Linked DNA regions of Homo sapiens. The protein of the gene in region 4 interacts with the protein of the main gene of each other region in a biochemical or structural test. Each region holds a gene or a part of one and is shown on either strand. Other genes may lie near its edges.

What was found.
Region 1: the proteins of SUPT5H (region 4) and CCNH form a complex in vitro, tested with the Homo sapiens proteins (one study listed by BioGRID).
Region 2: of the proteins of SUPT5H (region 4) and CSNK2A1, one has a biochemical effect on the other in vitro, tested with the Homo sapiens proteins (2 studies listed by BioGRID and IntAct).
Region 3: the proteins of SUPT5H (region 4) and CCNT1 form a complex in vitro, tested with the Homo sapiens proteins (2 studies listed by BioGRID, with this or other methods).

Annotation. Positions count from the first base shown.
Region 1 is NC_000005.10:87,395,919-87,402,942, reverse strand, and holds part of CCNH (cyclin-H), read left to right. Parts: intron 1-1,170; coding exon 1,171-1,241; intron 1,242-3,437; coding exon 3,438-3,549; exon of another isoform or gene 3,550-3,550; intron 3,551-7,024. UniProt on the Homo sapiens protein: Regulates CDK7, the catalytic subunit of the CDK-activating kinase (CAK) enzymatic complex. CAK activates the cyclin-associated kinases CDK1, CDK2, CDK4 and CDK6 by threonine phosphorylation.
Region 2 is NC_000020.11:533,776-540,799, reverse strand, and holds part of CSNK2A1 (casein kinase II subunit alpha), read left to right. Parts: intron 1-7,024. UniProt on the Homo sapiens protein: Catalytic subunit of a constitutively active serine/threonine-protein kinase complex that phosphorylates a large number of substrates containing acidic residues C-terminal to the phosphorylated serine or threonine.
Region 3 is NC_000012.12:48,692,705-48,699,728, reverse strand, and holds part of CCNT1 (cyclin-T1), read left to right. Parts: intron 1-1,545; coding exon 1,546-1,591; intron 1,592-3,490; exon of another isoform or gene 3,491-3,566; coding exon 3,567-3,730; intron 3,731-3,899; coding exon 3,900-3,970; intron 3,971-5,292; coding exon 5,293-6,696; 3' UTR 6,697-7,024. UniProt on the Homo sapiens protein: Regulatory subunit of the cyclin-dependent kinase pair (CDK9/cyclin-T1) complex, also called positive transcription elongation factor B (P-TEFb), which facilitates the transition from abortive to productive elongation by phosphorylating the CTD (C-terminal domain) of the large subunit of RNA polymerase II (RNA Pol II).
Region 4 is NC_000019.10:39,440,743-39,448,581, forward strand, and holds the start of SUPT5H (transcription elongation factor SPT5), read left to right. Parts: upstream 1-4,839; 5' UTR 4,840-4,895; intron 4,896-4,901; exon of another isoform or gene 4,902-5,061; 5' UTR 5,062-5,148; coding exon 5,149-5,223; intron 5,224-7,839. UniProt on the Homo sapiens protein: Component of the DRB sensitivity-inducing factor complex (DSIF complex), which regulates mRNA processing and transcription elongation by RNA polymerase II.

The DNA.
Region 1 (7,024 bases), on a different chromosome or scaffold from region 4:
TCAAATTCAAAATTGAGGTTAAGAGTTGCTAACTTCACAGAGATAATGAGTCTAGTCAGCCAACTCTTAGCACCAAACCTATGACCCTTATGCTTAAGAAATCAAAAGGAAATGAAGAGTAAAAATAAAGGAAGATGACAAAAATGGGAGGAATTTTAGGTAGGAGAGGGAAAGGAAAAAACTAGTTATTTTGAATTACTGGTAGCCAGAAATGGATTAGTTGTCAGGAGATTTCCTGATTTTCAGATCCAAAATTTATTCCCACAGTAGATGATGATGATGTAATATCAAACAGTTACCAAACTTTATAATAAAATTTAAATAAATCTGGATAAAGACAGCAACAAGAGTTCTTAAAGCATTGCTTTCTATTTTTCTAACTATTACCCCCAAGAGAAAAATAAGTTTTTTGCATTTGTGTTTGAAAAACTATTTAACATTTTGAGAATCTGTTCATTTCGCCTTTTATCAATCATAGGTCAAGTTCAGGTATGTAAAACTTCAGAGTAACTGAAATTTTAATATAGAAATTATATTTTCATACTGTCAGTGGCTCTGAGAAAAACAGGTAATTTGGGTTTTATATCACATTGATAAGTAAGTTTAACACCTTTGATTTGGACTTGATGCAAATAAGATGCAATAGATTTATAAAGCATTAGGTGGTAGTCTTGTTGGTTTGAATGTCTGTTACTCCACAGAAGTGCAACTATAGATAAAATGGCTTTCATATTAAGGGAATAGAGAATCCTTACTAGTGCCAGATTCCAGTTTTGCTGCTTCCTAGCTTTATTACTTTGGGCAAGTTACAAGATCATGACTTGTTCATCCCTGTAACTCAGATTCCTCATCTGTAAAATAAGGTTAGCCTTATTGGGCTTCTATATTAAAAGATATAAATGTTATAAGTACTGGCTATTACTGTTGCTTTCATACTATTTTCCCTCTGAAAGGTTGTACCTGAATGTCACTAAACTTAAAGGAACAATAAACATCTTTTAATGTAAGTGGTAATAAATCCTTAAAATATAGGAGTTACAGATTATACATTCATAAATTTAAAAATTTTTTAATTGCCTTTGATGAGGATGGAGGAAAATAATTTATGATGTCATGTTTTCTCAATGTGCTGTATGTTTTCAATAGATTTTTTTTTCTTTTCTTTACTAGTTATTTATCAGAGAGTCTGATGCTGAAAGAGAACAGAACTTGCCTGTCACAGTTACTAGATATAATGAAAAGTAAGTAAAAGAGAACACTTTACAAAATGTTTCTTCCAATACAAAGCTCCTTTCTAAATAAATCTCTTGGTGTTTAACTAGAAATATAACAGATTTTTGTTTAGATTTCTTTTCATTGAATTACTGTATTATGGAAGCATGAAAGACACATTGGTCTAGAACAAATAGAAGGTATATAGAAGGAAGTAGTGTTCATTTATATAGAACTTATGCAAAGAGTGAAAATAGAGTCAGATTTAGAAAGGATTTAGAGATTGACAACAGGATCCTTTTAAAGAATAAAGAAACATACTAGGCACTGAAAAAGATGTAATGGGAAATAACTTAAGGATAATGTTTAAATTTGGAACTTCTATTTTGTAGATAAATTATTTTTTTAAGAGAAAGGTAGAAGGAGATTTGACACACTCAGAGAAGGCACTGTTAAGACAGCAGAGAAAGAATTAAAGATGCTTGCCTTGAAAATTGGAGTGATGTGGCTGCAAGCCAAAGGAAGCTGGCAGCCATCGGAAGCTGGAACAGGCAAGGAATGGATTCATCCCTGGAGCCTCCAGAGAGAGTATGGCCCTTCTAGCACCTTAATTTTGGCACAGTGAAACATTTCAGACTTTTGGGCTCCAGAACTATGAGAGAATACACTTCCGTTGTTTTAAGCCACCACTTTTGTGATAATTTTAATAGCAATGTCAGGAAACTAATACAGCCCTGCGTAATCAAGACTTATCCAGCCCAAAAAGTCATTAGTGCTGGTGTTGAGAAACCCTGTCATTAGTGCCGGTGTTGAGAGTTGAGTAGAATCTCTACTTTACTTATTGGCTGGATTAGCCAGCATTCTCCATTCTTGACCGTGGCACACTTGGTCATGGCTGCTAAGCTACTCTTTGGGGTTAAAAGTCGATCATGTTTGTTTCCAAACCTTCTTGTGTAAATTGTTCTTGTTAATTAAATGTGTATTGTAATTAAATATTAAACCAGTAGAATATAAGATTGAAATCTTGATTTTCGATGACAGTAAATGGGCATACATTTTATATATTTTGTGTTTTAAAATTTAAGATGCTTCAGGGCATCTATGTATCATTTCCTGATTCTCTGCTCGAAGTGATCCTGAGGGCTTCCTTTGAGAATGATGGCTGTGATTTATGAATTATAAACTGTAGGTCTTTAGTTATACCACTAGGGGGTACACTTTAAAAGCTAATTGTGATTTGACTGTAGCTGTTAGGATCATAGAATTTAGTAGGTAAAGGTCTTATTCCACTGTACTCATTTCATAGCTTAGTTTTATTACTGATTTCTTCTCAATACCTTTATTTTGCTCCACTTGTTTTAAAATGAAATAAAAACAGCTCTTCATAAAACACTCAGAAGTTTAATGCTACTAAGATATTTGTAATTTTTGGAACATAGATACTGTCCTAAGGGTGTTGAGTTACAAGTATTAATTCAGTTAAAAATACTGCTTTGTTTGCATTATGAAATAGGTCAGTAGTGTAGTCATTTGGATCACATGGCTGGCTAATAGTAATAATAAGCCCATTGGATCTCTCATCATTCCCCTAATCTTGAAATTTGTATTCTTTGGTTTATTATAGTTGAATAACAAGATCAGCTAGAGGATGTTTTTGCAATTATAAAGTTACTGATACAGTAGTTTGCTTTTAACCTAAAGTGGACATTTTTGTATAGGGTTTGCGTTTTGTTAAAGCAAAGGATTATTAACAAATTTTTACTGAGCATCCTCCCTTTATTGCATGTTGTGTAATAACAGTTTCCTTTGAAAACAGGAAGTATATGCTTGGCCCACTGTCTATGGAATAGAATACTACGAAGATGGTTGGTGATAGAGAACAAAACATGTTCACTAAATCATTTAGGGATTTTTTTTTTAAGTCTTAAAACTGAACAAGAAGTGACCCCAGTAGGATTTGCCAAAAATTAATGCTAGATTATAGTGTGCTTTATGCTGTATATGATATGGGCTAAACAGCAGAGAGCCATAATTACTTGAACTAAACATACAGTGCTTATTGGATTTTAATGTAGAATGAAATGCAGAATGATGCAAATCCTGAGAATAACCATGTCATTTGAAGAGTGTTGTTTCCTATGACAAAATGGAAAAGTAACCAGCTCCCTTACTATGAGAAGGAGGTTTGCTTATTCAGTTTAAATTCTTTTTTTGTATCCACATAGGCATGAGAAACTTAGTAAAGAAGTATGAACCACCCAGATCTGAAGAAGTTGCTGTTCTGAAACAGAAGTTGGAGCGATGTCATTCTGCTGAGCTTGCACTTAACGTAATCACGTAAGTTAATGTGACAGTGTTAATCAATAGACATAACTGTTATCCAGTCCAGCTGGTTCGTAAATCATTTTATTGGTGTTTGCTCATTAGAGGAAAGCTGACTGATCCATAAAATCAGATTTTCTTTATTGAATGGACATTTCTAATGAGATTAAGGTAATAGTTCGGCATTCACTGTGCAGTTCTGATCCTGCTGTGACTCATATGTTCTTTGGCTTGCAGGCCCTGTCCTGTTCTGTTACTTCTCATGGGATTTCAGGGGTCAGGGTCTTCCTAAGGAATCCTTTTACCTTTTCCTGTCCTTTTAATCTTTTGTCTCTTTGAAGTTGTGATATCTGGTCTGAGGAACAAATATGCTCTTCCAGACTTCTGTTAGCTAGAGTAGAGAAAGTTGGCATACTTCTTTTTTTTTTTTTTCTTTGAGATGGAGTCTCGCTCTATTGCCCAGACTGGAGTGCAGTGGCGCGATCTCAGCTCACTGCAAGCTCTGCCTTCCAGGTTCAGGTCATTCTCCTGCCTCAGCCTCCTGAGTAGCTGGGACTACAGGCGCCCTCCACCACGCCCAGCTAATTTTTTGTATTTTTAGTAGAGACGGGGTTTCATCGTGTTAGCCAGGATGGTCTCAATCTCCTGACCTCATGATCCGCCCACCTTGGCCTCCCGGCATACTTCTTTCAGTGACAAACTTTATAGTGACCACAAAGCCAATAGGAAAAGAGGCCATGTAATTTCTTCTTGTGGCTAGCCATAAGAACACCTTTAATGTCTCTTAATTGATTTGTAAGCTGAATGTGAAAATCACCATAAAATTGGCAATTTGTGCTTTGCAAATTGAAAGATCCACTGAAACTTTCTTTTTTAGGTGTTTAAGCAGTTGGGAATTTGGACAGGTACTAGGATTAATGAAACTGCCATTTTCTATTTCCTGTGGGATGCATTTTGTTACTTAAAGTTATACCTTATTTGTTAAAATTTAATGGGAGTTATCTGTGGCATCTTATATTTAAGATGTATTTGAGGTATTATTTCTGTAATTGGTGAATATGTGCTGCTGGATAACTATGAAAAGCCAGAACAGCAATTCCAAGGCCTTTATGTCAAATACACATGACTCAAATTCCTTACCTATACAGTTGTAGTTGGGGAATATCTACGGACTTAGGAAGTGTGCAGAATATGAGGTTGTTTTATTATAGTTATAGGTATAACGACAAAGCATGTTTTAGCATAGAACTTGAAATTGGTGGATTTCATTCACTCCTCGGTTTCAGTGGTAACAGGAATTTTTCAGAGTGGTTACAGAGAAGTAATGTTGACTTTAATGAATAAAAGTATTGCAGCACTGATTATGTCCTTTTTGCATTGATTTTGAAATGGGATTAGACCAGGGGTTGGCAAACTGTTACCTACCAGGCATATCCAGCCCATTAGCGTTTTTAGAACACAGTTTCTTGGAATGTAGCACACCTATTCGTTTATATATCACCTATGGCTATTTTCATGATACAGCAGAAAAGTTAGGTAGTTGCAACAGAAACTGGTTATAGGGCCTGCAAGGCCGAAAATATTTACTGTCTCTTTAAAGAAAAAGTTTATCCACCCCTGGATTAGACCACTGAACTACTAATCCTACCCTTTCTAGCTAAGTAACTGAATGGACCATAATCCAAAATTCTTAACTGCCATAGCTTACATTGTATTCCAGATTGCCATCTGCCTTGTACTGGGCCAAATTCTGAATATCTATGAGTACTTGAGGGGTGCTTCTCAAACTGCGAAGGACTTTTTTAAAAAAAAATCACTAGATGTATACTTTTGTAAAATTCAATAAAAAATGAATTACTAGAAAAGTGAAGACAAAAACATAAGCTCAAGTTTTATTAGATTCAGCAGTCATAAAATTATTATATCAAATTGCTATTAAAAATTTCTAGGGCCGGGCACAGTGGCTCATGCCTGTAATCTCAGCAGTTTGGGAGGCTAAGGCGGGCGGATCACCTGAGGTCGGGAGTTCGAGACCAGCCTGGCCAACATGGCGAAACCCCGTCTCTACTAAAAATACAATAATCAGCTGGACGTGGTGGTGGGTGCCTGTAATCCCAGCTACTTGTAAGACTGAGGCAGGGAGAACTGCTTGAACCCTGGAGGGGTCACAGTGAGCCAAGATCACGCCATTGCACTCCAGCCTGGGCAACAGAGCAAGACTCTGTCTCAAAAAAAAAAACAAAAAAAAAATTATGAAACACAATTCCTGTACTTAACTCACTGCAAACTGGAAACTGTTCATGGACCAGCTCTGGTACTTGCTACCATGAGTAGTGCTACTTTAGGACTAAATATTTGTTTTCCTTGATCTTCAAAATTATTTTACCTTTAGTTTTCATGACACAAAAACTGTTTTGTCATTGTCAGTCAATACAAGTGAAACCAAAGTTCCCTTTGATCAAAACCCAAATCTGTCATGACCTCAGAAGTTACTTAGCAGTTGTTTACCTTTGCCAGCCTTTTCTCTGCACGTATATCCATATATTTATGAAATAAGCAGCGTTTTTTTCTTCTTTGCATTTTTCATACATATTGTACAATGGGTGATTATCAATGCTTAGCTTTTGCTAGTCTGGGTGAAAAAGTATCACATTGGTATTTTAATTTGCATTTTCTTGATTATGGGACATTGAACTTTCCATACTTAACAGTCACTTATATTTCATCTGTATTGCTTATTTATCCCCTTTGCCCAATTTTCTGGCTTTTTTGTTTGTTTGTTTGTTTTTGAGATGGAGTCTTGCTGTGTCACCCAGGCTTGAGTGCAGTGGCGTGATCTCACTGCAACCTCTGCCTCCCGGGTTCAAGCAGTTCTCCTGCCTCAGCCTTCCAAGTAGCTGGGACGACAGGTGCATGCCAACATGCCCAGCTAATTTTTTTTTGTATTTTTAGTAGAGACGGGATTTTACCGTGTTAGCCAAGGATGGTCTCAAGCTCCTGACGTCGTGATCCGCCCGCCTCAGCCTCCCAAAGTGCTGGGATTACAGGCGTGAGCCACTGCACCTGGCCACATTTTTGTGGTTTGTAGTGCTTTATAGATTCTATATACAGTCATCCTTCAGTATCCATGGGGGATTGGTTTCAGGACTTTCTGCTCATAACCACAATCCACAGATGCCCTAATACAAAATGGCGTATTTGCATATAACCTATACACATCCTCCCATATACTTTAAATCATCTCTAGATTACTTATAATACCTAAATACAATGTAAATGTTATGTAAATAGTTATACTGTATTCTTGAGGGAATAATAAGAAAAAATTCTGTACATGTTCAGTACAGATAGAATTTTTTTCCTTATTTTCAATCCGCAGTTGGTTTAGTCCACAGATGTGGAACCCACAGGATACAGAAGGCTGATTGTACTTATTTATATATGATATATTATTTATATATGATATATTCTATTGTTTTTCACAACTTTT
Region 2 (7,024 bases), on a different chromosome or scaffold from region 4:
GCTACTACATTTGTGGTAATTTGTTATGGCAGCAGTAGAACACTAGTATAGATTTTGGTACCAGGAGTGGGGTACTATTACCTAAAAATGAAAGTGGCAGTAGATAAAGGTTAGAATTGTTTTGAGGGGCATGATAGAAAAGGCCTGGAACACAGGAGGATCGCTTGAGCCCAGGAAGTCAAGGCTGCAGTGAGCGGTAATGGCACCACTGCACTCCAGCCTGGGTGGCAGAGTGAGACCCTGTCAAAAAAGAAAAGGCCTAGGACATACTTTTAGTAGCAATATGGATGTTAATGACTCTGCTAGTGAGGGCCCAGACAGAAGTGAGGTCTTTCTTATTGGAAACTGGCAGAAAGGGGATCCTTGTTACATAGTAGCAACTAAGTTTAGCAGAATTGTATCCTATGGTTATATGGAAAGCCAAATTTGCAAGTGATGAACTTGTATATTTAGCTGAGATTTCCAAGCAAAGTATTAAATGTGCAGCCTGGTTTATTTGTGAATGTGAACTTTAATGGAGTGGACCCATGTGGAATACTTCCACAGCCCATTAGGTTCTTGAGAATTTTATGCCAACATAAACAGTTCTAGTTTGGATTGAAAGAGACAGAAAGTAATAGGGCTGTTGGACCCCCCAAATTCTACTGATAGGAAGCAGGCTGATAAAACTACTCACATGTGAATGTGTTGCTTTTCATAAAAGAATCAGGGTGACTCAGACGGAGATAGGAGAGCCCAGAGGGGTGGAGCTAAAAGCTGGAGAGGATTTTTCCCAGGCTTTGAAATGGAATGGAGATTCCCTAGATTTTGAAACTGCTTTGGACCGGAGGCTCTGTTTTCTTTTACATTTTGCCCATTTGAACTGGAATGTCTAACTGTTATTCTCTACATGTCTCACAGTGGTATGTTGGGAGTAGAGAACTTGTTTCTTTAGGAATTGTGCCCCAGGAATTGGACTTACTGTTTTGTCCCCAGAACCTCATCCACACCTGAATAGATGAATGAGATTTGGGACTTCTGAAATGATAAGCTTTAGATGGGAAACCTTTGGGACCTTGGGATGGGATGGATGTATTTTGCATTTGAGAGAGAGATGAATCCTTGGAAACCAGAAGGCAGACTGCGGTAAGCAGAATGGCTCCCCTACGATTTCCATACTATAAACCCTGGAACATGAATATGTTAAGTAGATTTAATTAAAGTTAAGGATCTTAGGTAGATTATCTTGGATTTTCTGGGTGGGTTTATTCTACTCACATAAGCACTTAAAAGCAGAGAACTTTTTCTGGCTGGTGTCAGAGATGAGGCAGAAGGGGAAGTCAAATTTGAAGCATGAGAAGGACTCAGCCTGCCGTTACTGGAGGGGACCAGATTGAAAGTGTGAGACGGGGAATGCAGGCAGCCTCTAGTAGGAAAGGCCAGTCCCAGCTGACAACCAGCAAGGAAGTGGGAACTCAGTCCTACAGCTGCAAGGAACTAAATTCAGCCAATAGCTTGAATGAATGTGGAAGCAAATTTTCCCCAGAGTTTCCAGCAGGGAACCCACCCACTGGATACCCTCATTTAGCCCTTGTGAGACCCAGTCAAGCCCACTGACTTCTGTAAGATAATCCATTTGTGTTGTTTTGTTTGTGATAATTTGTTATGACACAATGGAAAACAAATACAGGGGTTTTGCTGGTTTTATTTTAGAGTCTTTGGGATATCATTTTCTAGAGAACAAAGATAGCAAAGATTCTATAAAACAATTTAGTCCTGGAAGACTCCACGGAATAATGGTGTTGAGTGGAACCTGTGCCTGTTTCTTGATGTTTGAATATTATTATTGTCCTTAGATGCAGTTTGAAGGGGCTTGATGGTCAGCTTAGTGAGATGTAGTTTCTGAAGGTCTAGGACATTGGTAGGATTTCTGTAAATAGGTGGTTCTTCCATATCTTGGATAAATGACATAATTTCTTCATTAGTTTTTATTGGCTTAATAATGGGTTTCTATGACAGCCTTTTAAGGCTTATTTCATATTTTTTTAGAGGAGATGGAAATGGGTGATACATTTTTGTGAATTTGTAACTGTCTCTCTGTTCTCTCACACCTCCCACCCCACCCCAGCTCAGCTCAAACTTGTAAGATCTTTTCTCCCTGTCATTGTCTGTTGAGGTTGTTGAGTTTAAGAGTCAGATCTGGGAATCATCACTACAGAATGGAGTTTCTAGCTTTTAAGAAAAGTCTTTTCTTTTTGTTCTTTAAAGTATCCTATTAATTGGATTCATAAAATATGGACTAACTAAACTTTAGTCAGAGGATGAAGGAAGTGAGACCATTTCTTTTGAGTTATTACCTGAATAGAAAGATGATTACAAGATTAGCATTTCAGGGTATGAAAGACTTTAGAGGTTATGTTTGACTTTGGGTTTAGAGTAAGGGAAATTGGGCCACATGAATGTTAACTGGTCTACTAAGATATCTCAGCCCTAGAGCTAGTCTAGAATCCTGGTCCAGCCAATAGAGAATCATGACTTTTGAACTATGTTCCCTGAGTACCCTTTTCTACTGTTGGCCGGGCATGGTGGCTCACACCTGTAATCCCAGTTCTTTGAGAGGCCGAGGTGGGCAGATGACTTGAGGTCAGGACAAGACCAGCCTGGCCAACATGGTAAAACCCCATCTCTACTAAAATTAGCTGAGTGTGGAGGTGCGTGCCTGTGGTCCCAGCTACTCAGGAGGCTGAGAATCACTTGAACCTGGGAGACGGAGGTTGGTTGCAGTGAGTCAAGATCACGCCACTGCACTCCAGCCTGGGGGACAGAGCAAGACTCCGTCTCAAAAAAAAAAAAAAAAGATGTTAACTGTCTATAATATTCAACTATATGACAACTTTTGCATAAATATTACAGTATGATTTGTACAAGTTCAGAAACTGAAAACCAATATGATTTGCCATTGAATTAGGTAAGGGCTTAGTATTTTAAGGTAATAAATAATGTGATACTTGATTTGAAATGAGAAACTGGGTTTTGATCTGTCACAATTCGTGGGTAACCTGGATAAGGTTTGTTTCATGAGAGTATTAATGTGTTCTTATACCTGAATTTCTTTGAACTTCTGAAATGGATAATTTCGAAAGTAGCATGTCATTTAGTTTATAGAGAAATCTAGGCCAGCCAGCTTTTCAAATGAAGAAATTCCTCTAGGATTATTAAGGAAAAGTAGCTGCTGTCATTGTAACAAAGGATGTATTTTCATTGGGTTATAGACAATTGGTAGTTTTCTTACGTTGAGTGCTCCCAGATGTACTTTTTTTTTTTCACATGTAGAAGTCAAAGATTGAGTCTTTTAAAAAGTTTAAGGTGAAAGCATTCACAGTATCACAAGATACTGCTAAGAGTGGCATTTTAACTGGTTTCTACAAATTCTGTCTTTCAGTCTTAGACATTAAAAAACCCTACGTAGCAACAGTTGCTATGGTCGGCAAGCTTCTTTACATTCGTGGTGATAATGTTTTCTTGCATAGAAAATATTGTGTTATCTGAGGTGACAGTTTTAGGGTTAAATACCAAGGTACAAGTTAGATTAATGTTTTATAATTTTTTATGTGTGACATCTTAAATGCCCTTATATTGGCTGCTCTTTTCTTTTTATACTTTCTTGTCTTGTGGGTTTTTCTGACAGGTTTTTATTAGCTGAAACATTTTAATTTGCTTGGAAAAGTGAACATTTGAAATTTTCCTGAAGTTATGACTAATGCTTTAATGGGCATTTCTCAGTTTAGCTATCTCATCAATGTTCTATAAATTTTAAGAAAGCTACCCTGTTTAAAATGAATGGGTAAATTATTTTCCAAAAAATGGTATCATGTCATATCCAGAAATACGAGATGGTCATTTTGGGTTATTGAATTCATAACCACTCAGAAGATGTTGTTCATTCAGCAGATCCTGAGCGCCTGCCACGTTTCTGGCAGGCGTTGTGCTAAAGATCTCCAAACTGTCACTGCCCTCCAAGCTCAAAATTGAGTGACGTTTTCTGATAACAGGCATATCATACCACAACTTAGTAGATTTTGGAGGTGTTTTCTTATAATAACTCCTATTTGCTTTGTATCTTAGGTGTAGTTTTTGAAACAGCTGCAGAAATGAGAAGGGGGTAGAATAGAGAATTAATTGAGATTGCGGGTAGGGAGGGGAAGGCAATAGGTTAGTGGGAAAGAACTCCCACTTTGAGTTTGGGGAAGTTTACTTAACCTCTTCAAGTCTGGGAGTTCTTGTCTCTACAGTTCGGATAACAACTACCTTGGGCAACTTACTAACTTTTGGTTTCTTCACCTGTAACATGGGAATTAGTAGTACCTACCTCAGGATTTTTGTGAGGATTAATAACTAGAGTACTAGCTAGTATTATCTCAGGATTATTGAGGATTAAAGGAGAAAATTGATAAAATGTCTGGCATGTGGGTGCCCAACATTAGTTCTTTCCCTTCCCTTTCGGAGAAAAGAATGTGTTTATTGCCAGTGCTGTCATTCTTCATTCTTTATTTTCATTTTCTGCTGCCAAGAGTTCTTATTTTTTTAATGAGACTTTTGACCTGTACTTCCTTGTTTCTAATGTAGCCTGTTGGGTGGGTGAGGTATGAATTGCTGCCTAGGGGTGGATCAGTATGTAAGTCACGCCCAGTGTAGATTACCTCAATTACTCGTGTACAGTGTCTATTACCTAGTCCTGGTGAGTCTAGGATTCTTTTGCTTCTAGATAGAGAAGGTAATATTCCCATCTCAGACTCAGGAAAAGGTCTACCTTTGCTCACCTATAGACTTGTAAATATAGATCAGAGGTCTTACTCCCAGTGGTTCTCTGATCACAGTTTGGGAATTGCTTGAATATTGTGTGTTAGGGATATGTTTGGAGAAGGCCAGCTCCCTGCATTAACATCTTCTCTATGTCTTGCTCTCTCAGGTAATCCACTAACTTGCTTTCTTGTTTGCTTTGTATTATTAAGTGATAAACTGTAGGCAGACCAGGAACTTGTATTTATCGGCACTTTAAAACTTTTTTTTTTTTTTTTTTTGAGATGGAGTCTTGCTCTGTCGCCCAAGCTGGAGTGCAGTGGCGCAATCTCTGCCTCCTGGGTTCAAGTGATTCTCCTCTCTCAGCCTCCTAAGTAACTGGGATTACAGGTGCATGCCACCCCACCGGGCTAATTTTTGTATTTTTAGTAGAGGCGGGGTGTCGCCATGTTGGCCACGCTGGCCTCAAACTCCTGACCTCAGGTGATCCACCCGCCTCAGCCTCCCAAAGTGCTGGGGTTACAGGCGTGAGCCACCGCGCCCGGCCAGTGTTTTGTGTATTTATGATTATATAGAATGGCTACAAATGGCCATCTGCTTTGGAGTTGTCTACCTTTTGTGAAAAAATGAAAATAGACTATTGCCTAGCAATTAAGTATTCAAGCATGTATTTTGCCACATAATTTATTGTGAGAAGGTTATCAATGTCAAATAAAATGCTTTCATTATTTGCTTCTATTTGTCTGTCTTCCTGACCAGTTCATTTTTCCTTCCAGTGAAGCCATCTTGAGCTAGGGTTTTCTTTGTGGGTAGTTGTTAATTTTTTTTGTAGAGACAAGGTCTCACCATGTTGCCCAGGCTGGTCTCAAACTCCTGGGCTCAAGCAGTCCTCTTAACTCAGCCTCCCAAAGTGCTGAGATTACACTCATGAGCCACCACACTGGTCCGAAGAAATTTTTTTTTTTTTTTTTTTTTTTTTTTTTTTTGGGAGATAGCATCTCACTCTGTTGCCAGGCTGGAGTGCAGTGGCACGACCTTGGCTCACTGCAACCTCCACCTCCCGGGTTCAAGCAATTCTCCTGCCTCAGCCTCCCAAGTAGCTGGGACTACAGGCGCACGCTGCCACGCCTGGCTTTTTTTTTTTTTTGTATTTTAGTAGAGATGGGGTTTCACTGTGTTTCCCAGGCTGGTCTCTAACACCTGAGCTCAGGCAATCCACCCATCTCGGCCTCCCAAAGTGCTGGGATTGCAGGTGTGAGCCACTGCACCCAGCCTGGTCTGAAGAATTTTTAAACACCACAGCTAAGGACCTGAGCATTCATCTGCAGCTACCTATATGCTCTTGTTACATACAGTTGTTATACTAGGGGGTTTTTCACAGCCATCTTTTATGACTGTTTTTGGAAAACATCACATTGACCTTCATACATATTCAAAACTTTAGGCTTTGTTGCATCTGGAGTCCAACACTGAGGCCCACAGATGTCACCAGCCCCCAGCCAGCAAGGTGGGGCATGTCTCAGTTGTCTTCCTTTCTCCCTTCAGTAGCCACACAGAAAAGCTTTTCCATCATTTAAAATCTGATTTTTATACAATTGTGGCCTGGTGGCCAGCCCATTCAGGTAAAAGAATAATGAAGAAACCTGATTATTGAAACTCAGTATCCCACCCCTACCTTGCCTCCAAATTTAAAGCAGTTCATTTTATTATAGTGTTTTGGATAGGCTGTTAATAAATCAGTTTGGAGAACTAAGGAAATAGTATTAAATTTAGTGAAAAGAACCTATTTAGGCTTTGGATCCTAAACAGATCTGGCTTCCACCACTTAGTAATCCTGTTGTTTTTGGCAGATTATTTAACCTCTGAATCTGTTTATTTCTAAAATCAGAATATGCATCTGATACTGTGCCTGGTTTGTAAGAGGCATTCAAATGGTAACAGTAGTTATTACATTCATAAGTGCTGAATTTTTCTTTAGATTACTGTATATCCCAAATGAAGTTTTCCATCTTTTGGTTCCAGAGGGTAATAGCCAGTGGAGTAAAGTTTCACATTGTGACTTTATTTTGCTTATATGGCGTGGTAAAAAGGTGTATAGATGATGACTATATTGTAAGAGACAGTACTGGAATTCCGATTTCTCTTAGGTGTTTGGGGTAGAACTATTAATCCAAATCAAACTGCTTGGATTTTCTTCTAATACCTCCCTTCATTGGGAGACCTCACACTGTTGCTATGTCATTTA
Region 3 (7,024 bases), on a different chromosome or scaffold from region 4:
GAGGTTGTGGTTTGTGGTGGACAATACATAATAGTTCTGCTTTGGCTAAATTTAAAGGCCTACTTGGCTTAAATCAAAATGAGTTGTTCTGACTTGATGTTTTTCTGTTGGGTTCTTACAAGTAATATTTTTAGATGATCTCTAGTTAAAGAGAACTAACCTCTTGAGAATGTTTGTCAAAGTTGGGCAGTTTGTGAAGTTATTTAACAGAAATTTTATGAAAGTTGTGAGGAGTGGGTGATCTTATTTTAATTCTGGGGTTGATTAAAGGCCACCTAGAGGATCATACAGAATTTATTTGGACTTTCCATGATATACAATCCCTTGGCAGAACTTTTCTTTTTAATTCTAATTTAACAATATTAGGTATAATTGAATGAAACTCTCTTATTTAGTTTAGTATCAAGAATATCTGAACACTATTGTGCCTTTAAGTGCCTTTTATGATTTTTAGGCCAAACTGATAATTGGTCTTATTTTACATTTTACTAATATGTGTTTCCTGTGAAAATTCCCAAATTTTCCTGAGTTCTTTATATTTGAAAGTATTAAAATGTTATATTGCACAAGGATAAGACTAGAGATGGGTGTATGTTAATATTGAGAAGACTATGTCCTGAGGAAGATAAAAATTTGCTTTGTCACCCAGAACAGTTTGTTTTGGAAGAAGTTAAATTTTTTCATTGTAATATATTACATTATTTGATGATTTGGGGATTAATTAATTAAATCTTAATTAGGGCTACTTAATTAAAAACTTTTTTTTTTTTTTGAGACGGAGTTTTGCTCTTGTTGCCCAGGGTGGAGTGCAGTAGCACGATCTCAGCTCACCACAACCTCCGCCTCCCGGGTTCAAGCGATTCTCCTGCCTCAGTCTTCCGAGTAGCTGGGATTACAGGCATGCGCCACCACCCCAGCTAATTTTTTATTTTTAGTAGAGACGGGGTTTCTCCATGTTGGTCAGGCTGGTCTTGAACTCTGGACCTCAGGTGATCCGCCCACCTCGGCGTCCCAAAGTGCTGGGATTACAGGCGTGAGCCACCGTGCCCAGCCTTAATTAAAAACTTTCTTAACAGCAAAAGTCACTTTTCCCAAATATGTCAAAGTCTTCTAGATTCTGATCTTGCTTCTAGATCATCTTAGTTCATCCTGTAGTTTAGTGATTCTCAGTGAATCCTTACATCAGAATCTCTGGGTTACTTGTTAAAAAATGCTTGCACCCTTCTCCAAACATTTAATTAAATTTTAGGGAGCAGGTCCAAGAATTGCATTTAAACAAGTACCTCAGATATGTGGTGTGCAGAATAAAGCTTGAGTACCTAGATCTGGAAGCAGCATAGTTATTAATGTTAAAATTAAAAATCATTGATCTGTCTACTTTGGCAGAATGTAAACGTCAGGTTTACAGGGACCATGTGTGTCTCATTTGCCACTATATTCACAGTACCTTGCAAATATTAAATGCTTACTAAATATTTGTTGAGAATGAATGGAACTAATAACTTTTTTCCTCCCCCACCCCTGACTTTTTTTTTTTTTCTTTAGCAAGCAAGGACTTAGCACAGACTTCTTACTTCATGGCAACCAACAGGTTTATATTTTAATTTTTTTTTCTCTTCGATTTTTGGTATAGGACTTTACTTGAGTTTGATACAGTGTGCTATAGATAATTCTCTGGTGAATGTTGATTTTTCTGCACAGTTTTCATGTTGTACTTTAAATTTCCATGGTACTTTTTAATTTTCTAAGGTTATGTAATTATTTAGTACTGATTTTTTTGATAACCTACTCAGTTCTGCATGATAGTGACTGAAAATCTAATTTGGAGTATTCTGCAATAATTATATGTGTATATATATATATATATATATATTTTTTTTTTTTTTTTTAAATTATTATTATTATTTTTTGAGACAGAGTCTTGCTCTGTTGCCCAGGCTGGAGTGCAGTGGCACAATATCAGCTCACTGCAAGCTCCACCTTCCAGGTTTACACCATTCTCCTGCCTCAGCCTCCCGAGTAGCTAGGACTACAGGTACCCGCCACCACGCCCAGCTAATTTTTGTGTTTTTAGTAGAGATGGGGTTTTACCTTGTTAACCAGGATGGTCTCGATCTCCTGACCTCGTGATCTGCCCACCTCAGCCTCCCAAAGTGCTGGGATTACAGGCATATATATATATATATATATATATTTTTTTTTTTTTAAGACAGAGTCTCACTCTGTCTACCAGGCTGGACTGAAGTGGTGCGATCTTGGCTCACTGCAACCTCTGCCTCCCGGGTTCAAGTGATTCTCCGGCCTCAGCCTCTTCACTAAGCTGGGATTATAGACTGGCGCCACCATGCCCCGCTAATTTTTTTGTATTTTCAGTAGAGATGGGGTTTCGCTATGTTGACTAGGCTGGTCTCAAACTCCTGGCCTCAAGTGATCCGCCTGCCTTGGCTTCCCAAAGTGCTGGGATTACAGGTGTAAACCACTGTGCCTGGCCAATAATTATATTTTAAAATATTCCTTTTTCTTCCCCCTCTATCAATCAATGGGCACTTATGGATGTTAAGAGTTTCAGTCTTTTTCCTTCTTCCCTTTTTAAAAAAAGTAAATGAGACTGGGCACAGTGGCTCATACCTGTAATCCCAGGCTGAGGCTGGTGGATCACTTGAGGCTAGGAGTTCGAGACCAACCTGGCCAACATGGTGAAACCACATCTTTACTAAAAAATACGAAAATTGGCAGGGCAAGGTGGCACATGCATGTAGTACCAGCTACTCGGGAGGCTGAGGCACGAGAATTGCTTGAACCCAGGAGGCAGAGGGTGCTGTGAGCCGAGATTGCCCCACTGCACTGCAGCCTGGGTGACAGAGAGAGAGACTCTGTCTAAAAAAAGTAAATGATTAGTACATAACTTGTATTACCAAATGACTTGCCCAACATTGTTAGTTAATGGAAACCAATGATATCCCTAGTAACTGTCAGGGCTAAGAAGTTCATTTTTATAGCCTGTTACGAAAAAGTTTTGAAATAAACCAACATATTTATACTTGAGAGAGTAGTTGTCTGTTTATTATTTTAAATAGACCAGAACTATGATTGGTGAGAGACAAATTATTTTTAAGATATTTCCTTAAGTTTTTGATTTACGGATTACACAGACCAAAAAGCTTACAATTTTCCTTAGGATCTGAGCTTAGTCTCAGGATAATAGGTAATAAATATTGACTTCTAGGCTTGAATACTGGCCCAGAAGTCAATGTTTTAAAGAACTTGAATTCCCAGCCTTTTTCCTTTTTTCCTTTTTTTTTTTTTTGGCTCTGGTCAATGTGTAGATTAAGTGATGTGTAATTCAAGAGTTTTTAAAATGTTGTTACCTGAACAGGTGGGTTAATAGGAAATTATATTGAGTGCTAGATCAGAGCATTGCATATTTCTTACCCTTCTTACTCTCCTGTCTATTTTTAAGCCTTTTTTTTTTTTTTTTTTTTTTTTTTTAAATAATGGAGAGTTTTAGCTTTGGGCTGAGAATTGAGAGCTCATGACACTCTCTGTTTTCTTCCCTCTGATGTCAGCCTGCATTTGACCACATTTAGCCTGCAGTACACACCTCCTGTGGTGGCCTGTGTCTGCATTCACCTGGCTTGCAAGTGGTCCAATTGGGAGATCCCAGTCTCAACTGACGGGAAGCACTGGTGGGAGTATGTTGACGCCACTGTGACCTTGGAACTTTTAGATGGTAAGTTTTAGAGTAAGGGACCTTGAAAAGCACTTGCTGTTGATCTGTCACATAGCTGGCCAAAGGTGACTTGATTCAGATGAAAATAGTTAGTTAGTAGTTCAGGTTATTCTTGTTTCATTACTTCTGTTTCTCTCAGTCTTTCTTGAATGTTCTGTTTTACTTGTAGAACTGACACATGAGTTTCTACAGATTTTGGAGAAAACTCCCAACAGGCTCAAACGCATTTGGAATTGGAGGGTAAGAATCATTACTGTCAGCTTGTGGAACAAAATCAATTTCTTTTGACTGCACCAGTGAATATACCAGTATTGAATATGTACCCTAGGTTTGGAATTGCCCTTTTTATAGTTACACAGTAATCATGACTTCTACTTCATACCTTGGATACTGTTGTAAAAGTCAGTGTCTCTATGGGATAGCAGGATTTGCTTTTCATTGTGTAACTCCTGTGATATGATCATTTGAGCAGTAACACTGGTTCAGTATTTTCTGTGTGGAAACTGGTAGGGAAAAAACATGGCTTCTCGGAGTTAGAGTATTGGCTTCTGGTAGAGGCAAGATAGAGAATTACAAGGTTAGAGCCGGTATCACAGTTTTGTGTTTGACATTACCTACTTTTAAAATGGATTTTAGAATTTTGTTTTTATATAGGCTGTAGTCTGAAGTTGTATTTCAAATACTTGTCAAAGCCTTATTCAGGAATAATGGAATCATTCCTTTTTTTTCTGTCAGATATAAAACTTGTTTTAAAATGTTTCCATTGTTTTCTCCTAAATCCAGACAGAAAAAGTTAATTTCATTCTCCTGAGTTGAGTGAGTGGCAGAGAGTGAGTTTGCCTCTTAGAAGCCTGAGATTAGAAGTAGGCTTGAGAGGCCGGGCATGGTGGCTCATGCCTGTAGTCCCAGCACTTTGGGAGGCCAAGGCAGGCGGATCAACTGAGGTCAGGAGTTCGAGACCAGCCTGGCCAACATGGTGAAACCTCGTCTCTACTAAAAATACAAAAATTAGCCAGGCATGGTGATGCACACCTGTAGTTCCAGCTACTTGGGAGGCTGAGACAGGAGAATCGCTTGAACTCGGGACGTTAGGTTGCAGTGAGCCGAGATTGTGCCACTGCACTCCAGCCTGGATGACAAAGTGAGACTCTGTCTCAAACAAACAAACAAACAAAAAACAACAGTAACAACAAAAAAGAAGTAGGCTTGAGAGCACATCTTTTACTTTAGCATAAAACCTCACCAAAATTTCTAGAACTCAGTTATGGACTAACTATAATCATAAGCGAAGGCATGGATGTTCATGTATGAATTTTAGATAAGCATAGATTCTTTGTTGTTATTATTGCTTTGTAACGTTTGGATAGATTGCTGTGACTCTTAATTGAAGGTTTTAAAATCTTCTCTTGATGGTAATATTTATTGGATTACATGTTAGGATAGCCTCCTGCCTGTGGCCTATCCAGAACTTCCAGTGTTGCTGCAAGTACAATCTACTCATCTCAGTGTTTTTTTATTTAGTAAATTACCTAAGTAAAGAGATGCTATTTGCTTCATTGCAGGCATGCGAGGCTGCCAAGAAAACAAAAGCAGATGACCGAGGAACAGATGAAAAGACTTCAGAGCAGACAATCCTCAATATGATTTCCCAGAGCTCTTCAGACACAACCATTGCAGGTTTAATGAGCATGTCAACTTCTACCACAAGTGCAGTGCCTTCCCTGCCAGTCTCCGAAGAGTCATCCAGCAACTTAACCAGTGTGGAGATGTTGCCGGGCAAGCGTTGGCTGTCCTCCCAACCTTCTTTCAAACTAGAACCTACTCAGGGTCATCGGACTAGTGAGAATTTAGCACTTACAGGAGTTGATCATTCCTTACCACAGGATGGTTCAAATGCATTTATTTCCCAGAAGCAGAATAGTAAGAGTGTGCCATCAGCTAAAGTGTCACTGAAAGAATACCGCGCGAAGCATGCAGAAGAATTGGCTGCCCAGAAGAGGCAACTGGAGAACATGGAAGCCAATGTGAAGTCACAATATGCATATGCTGCCCAGAATCTCCTTTCTCATCATGATAGCCATTCTTCAGTCATTCTAAAAATGCCCATAGAGGGTTCAGAAAACCCCGAGCGGCCTTTTCTGGAAAAGGCTGACAAAACAGCTCTCAAAATGAGAATCCCAGTGGCAGGTGGAGATAAAGCTGCGTCTTCAAAACCAGAGGAGATAAAAATGCGCATAAAAGTCCATGCTGCAGCTGATAAGCACAATTCTGTAGAGGACAGTGTTACAAAGAGCCGAGAGCACAAAGAAAAGCACAAGACTCACCCATCTAATCATCATCATCATCATAATCACCACTCACACAAGCACTCTCATTCCCAACTTCCAGTTGGTACTGGGAACAAACGTCCTGGTGATCCAAAACATAGTAGCCAGACAAGCAACTTAGCACATAAAACCTATAGCTTGTCTAGTTCTTTTTCCTCTTCCAGTTCTACTCGTAAAAGGGGACCCTCTGAAGAGACTGGAGGGGCTGTGTTTGATCATCCAGCCAAGATTGCCAAGAGTACTAAATCCTCTTCCCTAAATTTCTCCTTCCCTTCACTTCCTACAATGGGTCAGATGCCTGGGCATAGCTCAGACACAAGTGGCCTTTCCTTTTCACAGCCCAGCTGTAAAACTCGTGTCCCTCATTCGAAACTGGATAAAGGGCCCACTGGGGCCAATGGTCACAACACGACCCAGACAATAGACTATCAAGACACTGTGAATATGCTTCACTCCCTGCTCAGTGCCCAGGGTGTTCAGCCCACTCAGCCCACTGCATTTGAATTTGTTCGTCCTTATAGTGACTATCTGAATCCTCGGTCTGGTGGAATCTCCTCGAGATCTGGCAATACAGACAAACCCCGGCCACCACCTCTGCCATCAGAACCTCCTCCACCACTTCCACCCCTTCCTAAGTAAAAAAAGAAAAAGAAGAGGAGAAAAAAACTTCTTTAAAAAAACACATAATTTTTCTTTTTTTTTTTTGGACTAAGAAAATTACTTATGAAATATGTCATCCTTGGACTAGGGAATAAATTGATATTGAGACATAGTTAGGAGGGTGGTAGAAGGCCTTGGCTATATATCTGCTGTCTCATGCATTTAACTATTTTCTTACAGTTTTTACTGGTATTAGAGAGGTGTTGAAGCTGTGAAGGATTAAGGACACATTCTGAATTCTTGGCCTCTCCACCATCTAATTAGGTTGATTGGAGTTGATATCTTCCCTCTTCTTGCCAGAGCTGAA
Region 4 (7,839 bases):
GCAACCTCTGCGTCCTGGGTTGAAGCAATTCTTCTGCCTCAGCCTCCCGAGTAGCTGGGACTACAGGCATGTGCCACCATGCCCAGCTAATTTTTGTATTTTTAGTAGAGACAGGGTTTCACCATGTTGGCCAGGATGTTCTCGATCTCTTGACCTCGTGATCCACCTGCCTCAACCTCCCAAAGTGCTGGGATTACAGGCGTGAGCCACCGTGCCCGACCTTTTTTTTTTTTTTTTTTTTTTTGTAGATATGGGGTGTCGCTGTGTTGCCCAGGCTGGTTTTGGACACCTGGGCTCAAGTGATCTTCCTGCCTTGGCCTCTCAAAGAGCTGGGATTACAGGCATGAGCCACTGTGCCCAGCTGAGTGTCTTTTTCTAGCTTGCACATAAGTACAGCATGGGATAGTGTCAGGCCTTACGGTTGGGATTATCCAGAGCCCTATTTACAGATGAGGAAACTGAGGCCCAGAGAACTGAAGGGGTTTGTTCCAGGACACAGATAAGAAATCTTGGGAGTGGGGACTTGGACTCATGCCCTTACCCATAGATACCAGGTCACTTTGTCCCTACTGTGTGTCCTGCTGAGACTCTAGGCTGCTCCAGGTTGGAGCTGTCTGTGATTGGGTTTGAGGAGGGACCATCTATGGGAACTGCTGTGTTCCAGCTACAGTACCTGCTGGATCTCCTGGGGTCCCGGCTGTGGGTGGCCAGCCAGGGCCCTTGCCTGTCCTGTGAAGGACATCCCCAGAGACCTGTCCCCCTCTTGGAGTTACTACAGGGAGCTTGTGCTTGGCACCCTACCACAGCCTGAGCTTTGGAGGACATGGGCTCCCAGGTACACCCAGAGAGGCTGGGTAGAGAGAGGGAGGGAATAGTCTTCAGCTCCAACTGCCAAACCCTAAGCCTTTTCTTCCCTCTAGGCCAGAGGACCCCACCTGGAGCCCTAGTAGCCAAGGGGAAGAGTTAAGAAGGAGGAAAGTAAGGTGCGATCTGAAGTCTCTGACCTCTTGGGCAGGGAGTTGGATAAATTGCCCCACCTGCCCCCATTCTCACCCTCCTTTAGATACTCTTCTCTCTTCTTCCAGGAAGGGACAGAGAAGTGCACAGGTATTCTCTAACCTCATCCCTATACCTTGAGAACAGGGAGGGTCCTGTGGTTCACATCCCTACATCCCTGGCTACAAAAAATTACCACTTGAAGAACTTTCTTTTCTTTTCTTTTCTGTTTTTGAGGCAGAGTCTCACTCTGTTGCCCAGGCTAGAGTGCAGTGGCATGGTCTCAGCTCGCTGCAACCTCCACCTCCTGGGTTCAAGTAATTCTCCTGCCTCAGCCTCCTGAGTAACTGGGATTACAGGCACGCGCCACTACACCTGACTAATTTTTGTATTTTTAGTAGAGATGGGGTTTCACAATGTTGGTCACGCTGGTCTCGAACGCCTGACCTTGTGATCTGCCCACCTCAGCCTCCCAAACTGCTGGGATTACAGGCGTGAGCCACCGTGCCCAGCCCACCACTTGGAGAACTTTCAAGTAATACTGATGGCCAGACCCCAGCCCAGATAATTTGATAATTGGTCTCTGGTGAAGCCTGAGCATCTATATTATTTTTATTATTATTTAGAGACAGGGTTTCACTATGCTGCACAGGCTGTAACTTGGCATCTGCCCATATATTTTTTTGAGACAGGGTCTCACTCTGTCACCCAGGCTGGAGTGCAGTGGCATGATCAAAACTCATTGCAGGCTCGATCTTTCAGGCTCAAGTGACTCTCCCACCTCAGTCCCCCAAGTAGCTAGCGCTATAGGCGCATGCCACCACACTCAGCTAATTTTTGTATTTTTTGTAGAGATGGGGTTACCCTTTATTGCCCAGGCTAATCTTGAACTCCTGGCTCAAGCGATACTCCCCCCTTGGCCTCCCAAAGTGCTGGGATTATAGGCATGAGCCACCACACCTGACATTTTTTTTTTTTTTTTGAGACAGAGTCTCCCTTTGTCACCCAGGCTGGAGTGCACCGGCTGGTGGACTGGATGGCCACATTTCCATCACCCCAAAGCATTCCTTCTCTCTCTTCCCAGTCAATTTCCACCTCCCTCTCCAGCCCCAGACATCCACTAATCTGCATTGTCTGTATAGGTTGGTTTTGCTTGCTCTGGAGTTTCATATGAATGGAATCATGCTGGACATCTCCTGATGTCTGGCTTCTTTCACTCAGCATAATGTTTTGGAGATTCAGTCATGGGTGTATTGGTAGTTGTTACTATTCTGTTGCATGGATGGATGTACCAAAATTTGTTTTTCTTTTGAGACGAGTCTCACTCTGTTGCCCAGGCTGGAGTGCAGTGGTGCGATCTCTGCTCACTGCAACCTTCACCTCCCTGGTTCAAGTGATTCTCCTGCCTCAGCCTCCCAAGTAGCTGGGATTACAGGCGTGCGCCACCACACCTGGCTATTTTTTTTTTTTTTTTTTTTGTATTTTTAGTAGAGATGGGGTTTCACCATATTGGCCAGGCTGGTCTTGAACTCCTGACTTCGTGATCCGCCTGCCTTGGCCTTCCAAAGTGCTGGGATTACAGGCGTGAGTCACTGCGCCCGGCCCTAATTTTTGTGTTTCCAGTTTAGGGCTATTATGCAACTCTTTCTTTCTAAAATATTCTCAAGTATTCTGATGTGCTACCAGAGTTGAGTTCAGAACCACGGATCCACCAAGGAAGAAACTTCCATGGCTGGGGAAATGACTGTGCCCTCTTTTTTCTGCAGGGAATGGCTTTCTGCAGCAGTGTCTGTAGCGATTTAATATGTAGAATCCTATTTTCTTGTTGTTTTTTTTTTTGAGACGGAGTCTTGCTCTTTTGTCACAGCAACCTCCACCTCTCAAGTTCAAGAGATTCTCCTGCCACAGCCTCCCGAGTAGCTGGGATTACGGGTGTGCGCCACTACGCCACCTGGCTAATTTTTGTATTTTTTAGTAGAGACAGGGTTTTACCATGTTGGCCAGGCTGGTCTTGAACTCCTGACCTCAGGTGATCCGCCTGCCTTGGCCTCCCAAAGTGCTGGGATTACAGGCGTGAGCCACCGCGCCCGGTGGAGAATCCTTTCTTTTTTTGAGATGGAGTCTAGCTCTGTTGCCCAGGCTGGAGTGCAGTAGCACGATCTCGGCTCACTGCAAGCTCGGCCTCCCGGGTTCACGCCATTCTCCTGCCTCAGCCTTACGTGTAGCTGGGACTACAGGCGCCCGCCACCACGCCCAGCTAATTTTTTTTTGTATTTTTAGTAGAGATGGGGTTTCACCGTGTTAGCCAGGATGGTCTCGGTCTCCTGACCTCGTGATCCACCCGCCTCGGCCTCCCAAAGTGCTGGGATTACAGACGTGAGCCACCGCGCCCGGCCCAGGTGTGTCATACTTATGTGAGAAATTTTACCAATGTGTCCTGAGGCTTCTTTTTTTTTTTTTTTTTTTTGAGACTGAGTCTCACTCTCGCCCAGGCTGGAGTGCAGTGGCGCGATCTCGGCTCACTGCAAGCTCCGCCTCCTGGGTTCACGCCATTCTCCTGCCTCAGCCTCCCGAGTAGCTAGAATCACAGGCACATGCCACCACGCCCGGCTAATTTTTTTGTATTTTTAGTAGAGACGGGGTTTCACCATGTTGGCCAGACTGGTTTCGAACTCCTGACCTCAGGCAATCTGCCCGCCCCGGCCTCCCAATGTGTTGGGATTACAGGCATGAGCCACCGCGACTGACATAGACTTCTGATTTTTAAAATTTCCCCTATCAGGTTAATTTTTCAATTTTTAAAAATTTAAGTTTTAATTTTTTTTTTTTTTTTTTTTTAGAGACAGGGTCTCTATTACCCAGTCTGGAGTGCAGTGGTGCAATCATAGCTCACTGAAGCCTCAACATGGGTTCAAGTGATCCTCCCACCTTAGCCTTTGGAGTAGCAGGGACCACAGGCACACGCCACCACACCACATTAAAAAAAACACAAAAATTGGATACATGGGGTCTCAATTTGTTGCCCATGCTAGTCTCAAATACCTGGCCTCAGGTGATCCTCCCGCCTCAGCCTCCCAAAGCGCTGGGATTACAGGCGAAGGTTCATTTTTCATCTCTCCATTACACCTGTCCACTCTGCCATCACTCGTCAGCCGTCATTACTAATAGATAAATTCGCCTTTAAATGAACTTAGGAAGCCTGGAAAGAAAAATAGGGACTTGGGCCGGGCGCGGCAGGTTATGCCTGTGATCTCAGCACTTTGGCAGGACGAGGCCGGAGGATGGCTTTTTAGTTTGAGTTAGAGGAGTTTGAGACCAGGCCGGGCAACAGCCCGACTCTACCAAAAAAAAAAAAAAAGTACAAAAAGAAAGAAAAAGAAGGAAAAACCAGGGCTTCACGGTCACTCAGACTTGGCGAGGAGGCTTGGGTCTGCCGCTTTCCACTGAGTTTTTCTGAGCTTCAGCGTTCTCTCCAAAACGGGGATACGGATCTCCTGGGGATGCTTTAGAGGGCCTAGGAGATAAAGCCTTGTTTCTTTTATAATTTGCTATTCGCTGATTTCGCCGCCTCCTCGCAGCTTGGCCTACCGCGCTAGTGTTCCGGACTAACGAACAAACGGCTCACTAAATTCAAACATGAGTTTCAGCCTGGTCGCCGAGCCGGCGGGTAGAAAAAACCTTTCCCCTCCTAACCCTCCGCAGATGTCGGCCCCGCACTCCGCCCAGGCCAGCCCTGCCTCTCTCAAGATGGCGACCTGGAAGTGCGTCGCCCGTGCCAGCCCCGGAAATCTCGTGTTAGGCGAGGTCAACGGGTAGGTTCTCGCGAGAGGACCCGTCAGCCCCAGTCAGGCGTCGTGCGAACAGCAGCTGGTACCGAAGGCGGAGGTGGAGCCCGAGAGGTAAGTGCGTGTGCAGAGGTGGCAGTTCCGGGCGCCGGGGAGGTGTAGAGAACAGATTCGGAAACTGGGGAGGTCTAGCATGTGGCGTAGGAGGGGGTCCTCACTCCGCTTCGCGATTGCCAAAACGAGCCTGCCGGAAGCGCCCTAAGGGGTTTTCTTCTCCCAGGGAACCAGCGGGGAAACTGAGGCTCGGGGTGGAGCGCAGGATTGTGGGACGCGCCAAGGCTGCTGTCTTTCCCAGCAGCAGCGGAAGATGTCGGACAGCGAGGACAGCAACTTTTCCGAGGAGGAGGACAGCGAGCGCAGCAGTGACGGCGAGGAGGCCGAGGTCTGTGGCTGGGGCGCTGGGGGAGACATTGCGTCTGGGGACAGGACTCCGGGCAGAAAGGCCCCTGTGGGAGGCTCGAGGGGTTCACAGCGGGCTCTGGCTTCTGGGAACTCCCAGATTGTCTCAAGAGATAGAGAATTAGGCAAGTCGAAGTCAAGCAAAGGGACAGGTTCTGGAGGCCAGAAATGGGTCAGGTCCAGTGAGATAACAGGTGATGTTTTGAAAGTTTACTCTGTGTGCATATAGTAAGCACTTAGCATTAGTTTTTTTTTTTAGTTATGTCTAGTCATTCCATAACTATATTTGTAGTGCCTACTATGTACCAGGCGCAATTCTTTGCTCTTAGGGTACACCAGTAAACAAAAAGATTTTAAAAATGTCTGCCTTCGGGAATGTAAATAAATATAGCCAAGGAATAAACTATATAGTAAGCTGGAAGGTACTCTGGAGAAAAGAACAGAAAAGGGGAATGGAGAGTCCTGGTTGCTCTTGAAATAGGGTCATCAGCATGAGTCTGAGGGGTGACATTTGAGCAAAAACTTGTTGGAGGTGAGGGAGTGAGTCGTGGTTAGCTGGAAGTGTAGTGTTCCAGTGAGGGGGACCAGCAGGTGCAGAGATGGGAGTGTGTCCGCCGTGTTCAGGGATTAACGAGGATTTGAGAGGCCAAGCTGGGAGGATCACTTGAGCCCAGAAGTTTGAGAGCAATCTCGGTAACACAACGGGACCCTGTCTCTACAAAAATATAAAAACCATTGGCTGAGGCCGGGCTTGGTGGCTCACACCTGTAATCTCAGCACTGTGGGAGGCCAAGACAGTGGATCACCTGAGGTCAGGAGTTCAAGACCAGCCTGGTCAACATGGTGAAACACCATTTCTACTAAAAATACAAAAAAATTAGCTTGGCATGGTGGCGCCCACCTGTAATCCCAGCTACTCGGGAGGCTGAAGCTGAGAATCGCTTGAACCAGGGAGGTGGAGACTGTGGTGAGCTGAGATCGCGCCACTGCACTGCAGCCTGGGCGACGAGCAAGACTCCGTCTTATAAAAATATTAGCTGAGCTTGGTGGCACGCTTCTGTAGTCCCAGCTACTTGGGAGGCTGAGGTGGGAAGATTGCTTGAGCCAGAAGGTGAAGGTCTAGTGAGCTGTGATGGTGCCACTGCACTGCAGCCTGGGTGACAGAGTGAGACTTTGTCTCCCCACCACCCCCTAAAAAAAGGGGGTCCACTTTGGTTGGATCAGAGTGAGTGCAACAAAGAATTTATGAGAGCCAAGTCATATAGGATCTTGAAGGCTGTGGTAAGGAATTTGGTCTTAACTGAGTAAAATGAAACCACGAAAAAGTTTGAGCAAGTGGAAGATGTGATCTAATGTTTTGAAAGGATCACTCTGGCTTTGGGTCTGTTGTACCTCTGTTCCAGGAACCAAAAAACCAACATTTCCTGGGGCATTTCTGATTTCAAATGTTCTTTTATTTGCCATTATCTTTTTTTTTTTTTTTTTTGAGACAGCATCTCACTAGGTTGCACAGGTTGGAGTGCAGTGGCATGATCTCAGCCCACTGCAACCTCAGCCTCCCGAGTAGCTGGGATTACAGGCATGCACCACCACATCAGGCTAATTTCTGTATTTTTAGTAGAGACGGGGTTTCACTGTGTTGGCCAGGCTGGTCTTGAACTCCTGACCTCAGGTGATCCACCCTCCTTGGCCTCCCAAAGTACTGGGATTACAGGCGTGAGCCACTGCACCAAGCCCATTATCCACCTTTTAAACTTATTTTTGTTTTATTTGTTTGTTGAACAAATCAGTGTTTGCATCTACTACTGTGTTCCACTTACTTCTCAGGTGTCTGGTAGGAAATCTTTGCATTTTTGGAGTTGACATTTAGTAGGTAGCAATCACAAACCAGTAAACAGATGACAGGGTGATTATAGATCCCTTGTTTGATGCACAGAAACTTAAATTGGCTGTTAAATTAGTTGCCAATGCTTGTGAGGGAGATTTAACATAAAGATTAAGATTTCTTTTTCTGGGGAAATGGAAGGAGCTGGCACCCTGGGACACAGAGTTGTTCTGCAGAGCAGCCGTTTGCTTGATGAGTGGCTGCCCTACTTATACAGCTGGGAATTTTCTCCAGTTCCCAGGATATGTTAGTTGCCATTTGTCCTCTTGCTTGCCTTGTGGCAGAGTGAAGAAAAGGAAAAGATTTCATGTGGCTGTGTTCTGGAAAACGTTTGGTAGATGGAGAGTGCTGTGTGTTTCGGGTGACTTGTCCCAGTCACTTATGTTGCCTGCTTATCCTCTGTGGACATTTGATTGCCAATCTTTATTGTGACCTTTGGAGAGTGCCTGGCTTCCAGGCTTGCAGTGAAGAGTTGGAGAAATTGGGATGCTGTGGTGGGAGAGTGACAGGGAGGGCCTTTTCTCTAAGCTGTAGCACTGGATTCTTGGTCTCTGATTCATGGCTTGGAGACACTGCTTGGTGGTTAAAGTCAGGTGGAAATGAGACCAAGATCCCCAGTTCCATTTCCTGTCTGGGACATTCTCGTTTGCACTGTTACTAGTCTCACTTCCCCAACACTACACCATACTTGACCCCCCACCCCCGCCGCTGGCT